Linked DNA regions of Homo sapiens. The protein of the gene in region 1 purifies or fractionates together with the protein of each later gene. This does not show direct contact. Each region holds a gene or a part of one and is shown in the gene's direction. Other genes may lie near its edges.

The links. The genes of interacting proteins can lie anywhere in the genome.
Region 2: the proteins of KIFBP (region 1) and KIF3C purify together in Homo sapiens (affinity purification with mass spectrometry; 2 studies listed by BioGRID and IntAct, with this or other methods). This does not show direct contact.

The regions. Positions count from the first base shown.
Region 1 is NC_000010.11:69,015,143-69,017,482, forward strand, and holds the end of KIFBP (KIF-binding protein), read left to right. Parts: intron 1-398; coding exon 399-1,274; 3' UTR 1,275-1,840; downstream 1,841-2,340. UniProt on the Homo sapiens protein: Activator of KIF1B plus-end-directed microtubule motor activity. Required for organization of axonal microtubules, and axonal outgrowth and maintenance during peripheral and central nervous system development.
Region 2 is NC_000002.12:25,979,698-25,983,623, reverse strand, and holds the start of KIF3C (kinesin-like protein KIF3C), read left to right. Parts: upstream 1-1,126; 5' UTR 1,127-1,706; coding exon 1,707-3,251; intron 3,252-3,926.

The DNA.
Region 1 (2,340 bases):
TCAACTCCTGACCTCGTGATCTGTCCGCCTTGGCCTCCCAAAGTGCTGGGAGTAATGTATCACATATATATAATGTTTCACAATTCTCAAAGTACTTTTACATGTAGCATTTATCTTATTGGAAGGAGTAACTGTAAATAAATTTCAGTTCCTCAGAATAAATGATATGTAAGCAGCTTGTCTATTTAAATACTTTTTTTTCCACATTTCTTGAGTTTTTAATATAATCGGAAGAAAGAAAGAAGTTTTCAAAGGTGTTTAAGATTATGATACCCTTCTAAACCAGGCTGGAAAGTAAGAGACTTCTCTTCTAAAAAACTCTGAAGTTTGCTTTAATATTATTTAACAGCAGGAGGTGAGTGTCCTACTTAACCATAATTTATTTTTTTTTCCTTCAGGACAACATAGGAGAGCTTGATCTTGATAAACAGTCTGAACTTAGAGCTTTAAGGAAAAAAGAACTAGATGAGGAGGAAAGCATTCGGAAAAAAGCTGTGCAGTTTGGAACCGGTGAACTGTGTGATGCCATCTCTGCAGTAGAAGAGAAAGTGAGCTACTTGAGACCTTTAGATTTTGAAGAAGCCAGAGAACTTTTCTTATTGGGTCAGCACTATGTCTTTGAGGCAAAAGAGTTCTTTCAGATTGATGGTTATGTCACTGACCATATTGAAGTTGTCCAAGACCACAGTGCTCTGTTTAAGGTGCTTGCATTCTTTGAAACTGACATGGAGAGACGGTGCAAGATGCATAAACGCAGAATAGCCATGCTAGAGCCCCTAACTGTAGACCTGAATCCACAGTATTATCTGTTGGTCAACAGACAGATCCAGTTTGAAATTGCACATGCTTACTATGATATGATGGATTTGAAGGTTGCCATTGCTGACAGGCTAAGGGATCCTGATTCACACATTGTAAAAAAAATAAATAATCTTAATAAGTCAGCACTGAAGTACTACCAGCTCTTCTTAGACTCCCTGAGAGACCCAAATAAAGTATTCCCTGAGCATATAGGGGAAGATGTTCTTCGCCCTGCCATGTTAGCTAAGTTTCGAGTTGCCCGTCTCTATGGCAAAATCATTACTGCAGATCCCAAGAAAGAGCTGGAAAATTTGGCAACATCATTGGAACATTACAAATTTATTGTTGATTACTGTGAAAAGCATCCTGAGGCCGCCCAGGAAATAGAAGTTGAGCTAGAACTTAGTAAAGAGATGGTTAGTCTTCTCCCAACAAAAATGGAGAGATTCAGAACCAAGATGGCCCTGACTTAATCCTTGTTTTTAAAGAAAGGAAATGTGCAATATTGAAGTGATCTTTTTCCCTAGTCAGACAGGCCCAATTCCATTGTGATGTTTACCTTTATAGCCAGGTGAGTGCAGTTTGAACTTGAGATACAGTCAACTGAGTGTTTGCTAGGATCCTAAGGAACATAAAGTTAATTAAAAACTTACACCTAATTATGTAAATTGCCTTGTTAAAGACATGTGATTTGTATTTTAGATGCTTGTTTCCTATTAAAATACAGACATTTCTACCCTCAGTTTCTAAATGTAGACTATTTGTTGGCTAGTACTTGATAGATTCCTTGTAAGAAAAAATGCTGGGTAATGTACCTGGTAACAAGCCTGTTAATATATTAAGATTGAAAAAGTAACTTCTATAGTTACTCCTTCTAAAATATTTGACTTCCTAAATTCCCCCCACCCAAAATCTTTCCCTTTTGAAAATACTAAAAACTAAGTTATGTTATTATAAAGTGTAAAATGGTTTGTCTTAATTATAGGAGAAAAAGGCCTTGTTAGAAATAAAATAAACTGACTTATTTCACTAATGAAAACTTCTGTTTCCTTTTTGTTTTCTTGTGAGCACTGATACCTCAATACATTGATACCTCAATACCTTTGAGGTATTTTTTGATACCTCAAAGATACTAGCTTATTTGAAGCTAGAGAAGAATATTTCTTCAATAACATTGCACAGTTAGAAAACATTAAAATATCATTCATGGGCCAGGCACCGTGTCTCATGCCTGTAATCCCGGCACTTTGGGAGGCTGAGGCAGGCGGATCACAAGGTCAGGAGATCGAGACCATCCTGGCTAACACGGTGAAACCCCGTCTCTACTAAAAATACAAAAAATTAGCCGGGCGTGGCCGCGTGCGCCTGTAGTCCCAGCTACTTGGGAGGCTGAGGCAGGAGAATGGCGTGAACCCAGGAGGCAGAGCTTGCAGTGAGCCGAGATTGTGGCACTGCACTCCAGCCTGGGTGACAGAGCGAGACTCTGTCTCAAAAAAAAAATATCATTCATGGCTGAGTGTGGTGGCTTATGCCTGTAAT
Region 2 (3,926 bases), on another chromosome or scaffold:
GCTGGAGCAAGGGGAGTGACTGCTCAAAGCCACTCCATTGGATGGCCATCAGAACTGGAACTTCAATCCAGGTTTTGTCTTAGGTAAATTCTGTGCCTCTTTCACTATAGAAAAAAAAAAATTGCTAAGGGAAGGCTTCGTGGAGGAGGAGGTGCTTGAACTGCCCAAGTGGCAGGGCACTAAGTGCCGAAGGGTGACCAGGCCTCTGGGCAAAAGCACAAAGATGCTGCACAGCAAAGCCAGTTAAAGAAACAAAACACGGTTCCGGGAATGTGCACTGCTTGAGGACAGGAAGGACCCAGATCCTAGAATGGGGCCTGGGGCTCAGCAGGCGCTGGATAACTGAAGAAATGGCTGTCTGGAACACAGATTTTTCTATAGAGGAGTAGTGGCGGTGAGGCTGCGAAGGCGGAAGATGGAGAGGCTTTCACACAAGGAAGGCGGTGGAGGAGGAGCGAGGGGGCTCCCGGGTGCTTGTGCGGACATAAGGTGCGAGAGAATCAGCTGGAAGGTGGGCTCCAGCAGAGAGAAGAGGAAGGCCAGAAGTAGACCGGGACAGGGGGAGGAAAGGACAGAGTCAAGGAACATTTAGGAGTTCGGTTCCCGGAGGCCTGGCGACACCCTGACGGGGAGGGGTGACGCGCACCCATTTGCAGGCAGAAAGGCAGGAGCAGGGGGGTGTCCGAGGATGGTGGCTCGGAGGGACCAGGCATAGGTGGTGCAAGCTCAGCAGTCACTCAAGGGGTGGCATGCGGATGAGGGAGGCGCCTCCCGGACTGGGGGACCGGGAAAGGCATTAGCAACCTGCCAGAACCCGGTTAACAAAGGCAGGACTACAATTCCCGGCATGCTCGGGCTCGGTGGGGTGACGGCGGGCGGTGGCTGCGCTGCACCCGACTGGTGGGCGCAGGACCTGGGTCGGCACCGGAGCCTGTCATCCCGGAGCGGTCGGCGGGGGTGCAGAGACGGCGATGCGCCCCTGTCCCCCGCACCCGGGCCGCTCCGGGCTCGCGCCTCCCGCCCCGCGGCCCCGCCCCCTGCCCCACCCCAGTCGGGAGGCTTAGCTGGGGCCGCAGCGCGGCGGCAACATCACTCTCGCTGCCGCTGCTCCGCCCCATCCCCTTCTGTTTTTCTCTCTCATTCTCCAGTGGCGGCGGCGGGGAAGGCGGAGGCAGAGGCAGCAGCAGCCGCGCTGGCTGCAATGAATGATCCCCCAGCTTGGGGGGAGGACTCCAGGTGAGCCTCTGCCCTCGGGAGGCCCGGGACCCCCGGCCGCCCACGACCGGCAGCCCACGCTATGGATCCCTAGAGGAAGGAGGAGAAGACAGCTCGCCGCCCACCCCCATCCCATTTTCCTCTTCCTTTATCTCATTGTTGCCGAAGCTGTTTACGGCAGCGCTCCCTCTGCTCCTGCATGGGGCGGGCTCCGGGCACGGCTGCTCGGCAGGCGCTGCTCCCGCGGCGACTGGGGGATTCTGCCTAATTCACCTCCCAGCCGGTGCAGAGAGGACCGGAGAGCGGTGGAGGCCCGGACTGCAGCAGCGTTGGGGCCACCTCCCAGCGTCCCCACCCTAGGAGGCTGCATGCGGATTGAAGAGCTGCGCCTGGGGGCTGGGCCGGCCCCGCTGATCCCGACCTAGCGAGCAGGATAGCAGGACCGCCCAGGCTGCGGAGGGGCTCGGGGGCAGGAAGGTCAGAGCAGCAAGATGGCCAGTAAGACCAAGGCCAGCGAGGCCCTCAAGGTGGTGGCCCGGTGCCGCCCCCTCAGCAGGAAGGAGGAGGCTGCTGGTCACGAGCAGATCCTGACCATGGACGTGAAACTGGGCCAGGTGACCCTGCGGAACCCCCGCGCCGCCCCGGGGGAGCTGCCCAAGACCTTCACCTTTGACGCCGTGTATGATGCCAGCTCCAAGCAGGCCGACCTGTATGACGAAACCGTGAGGCCCCTGATAGACTCCGTGCTCCAGGGTTTCAATGGCACGGTGTTTGCCTATGGCCAGACGGGCACTGGCAAGACCTATACCATGCAGGGGACCTGGGTGGAGCCCGAGCTGCGCGGGGTCATCCCGAATGCCTTTGAGCACATCTTCACCCACATCTCCCGCTCCCAGAACCAACAGTACCTGGTCCGGGCCTCCTATTTGGAGATCTACCAGGAAGAGATTCGAGACCTGCTCTCCAAGGAGCCGGGCAAGAGGCTAGAGCTGAAAGAGAACCCCGAGACTGGCGTCTACATCAAGGACCTCTCCTCCTTCGTCACCAAGAATGTCAAGGAGATTGAGCATGTGATGAACCTGGGGAACCAGACCCGGGCTGTGGGCAGCACCCACATGAATGAGGTCAGCTCCCGCTCCCATGCCATCTTCATCATCACTGTGGAGTGCAGCGAACGTGGCTCTGATGGCCAGGACCACATCCGAGTGGGCAAGCTCAACCTCGTGGACCTGGCTGGCAGCGAGAGGCAGAACAAGGCAGGCCCCAACACAGCGGGAGGGGCAGCCACACCATCCTCGGGTGGCGGTGGTGGCGGTGGAGGCAGTGGTGGTGGTGCTGGTGGAGAGAGGCCTAAGGAAGCCTCCAAAATCAACCTCTCATTATCTGCCCTGGGCAACGTGATTGCTGCCCTGGCGGGCAACAGGAGCACCCACATTCCCTACCGGGACTCCAAGCTGACCCGGCTGCTCCAGGACTCCCTGGGGGGGAATGCCAAGACCATCATGGTAGCCACACTGGGGCCAGCTTCTCACAGCTACGATGAGAGCCTCTCCACCTTGCGCTTTGCCAACCGAGCCAAGAACATCAAGAACAAGCCCCGGGTGAACGAGGACCCCAAGGACACACTGCTGCGGGAATTCCAAGAGGAGATTGCCCGCCTGAAGGCCCAGCTGGAGAAGAGGGGGATGCTGGGGAAGCGGCCCCGGAGGAAGAGCAGCCGCAGGAAGAAGGCCGTGTCCGCCCCGCCTGGGTACCCTGAGGGCCCAGTGATTGAGGCCTGGGTGGCAGAAGAGGAGGATGACAACAACAACAACCACCGCCCGCCCCAGCCCATCCTGGAGTCAGCCTTGGAGAAGAACATGGAGAATTACCTGCAGGAACAGAAGGAGCGGCTGGAGGAGGAGAAGGCAGCCATCCAGGATGACCGCAGCCTGGTGAGCGAGGAGAAGCAGAAGCTGCTGGAGGAGAAGGAGAAGATGCTGGAGGACCTGCGGCGGGAACAGCAGGCCACAGAGCTGCTTGCGGCCAAGTACAAGGTAAGGGCCCCAGAGGAGCTGGGCACTCGAGATGTCCCCGCAGGGGATCCCGGCAAGGAGGCTCTTCTTTGAGAGTCTGTGACCTGGCCTGAAGTGGAGGTTCTCCCTCAGCACCGCACACTGCCCTCCTGCCAAATGTGCCCCCAGAGCAGCCAGGCAAATTGCTGTGATACCGGGCTGCCAGGTACATGCACAGGCACACACACACGAAGCAACGTGGACAGGCGGTCTCTCAAGCCAGTGAGCTTGGGGTGGTCTGACCTGCTGTGGGCATTTCCTGCTGGTGGCCTCAGGATCAGTCAGGTCTGTGGGATGGCCAGGCAGCCTCTTGTGAATGTGGGTTCTTGTTCCTTCACAGCCTCCTCCCCTGAGGCTTCCTCCCTCTGCAGCATCTTCAAACCTCACGTCGTTTTAATAATATCATTTGGTTAGTGCTTCAGTTCAAAAAATGCCCCATATATATGATCCATACATGATCTCATTGGATCCTTTGGCCATCCAGGGTCACAGTTCTGAAATCCCCATTTCAGAGGTGAGGAATTAAAGCTTGGAGAAGTGACGTGACCAAGGTTCCATCCTATGAAGTGGCAGAGCTGAGCTGGAACCCATGGACCTCATGCTGTTTCAGTTCTTAGCTGGGCAAAGTGGGACCATGAACAGATTCTGCTCCCTGGG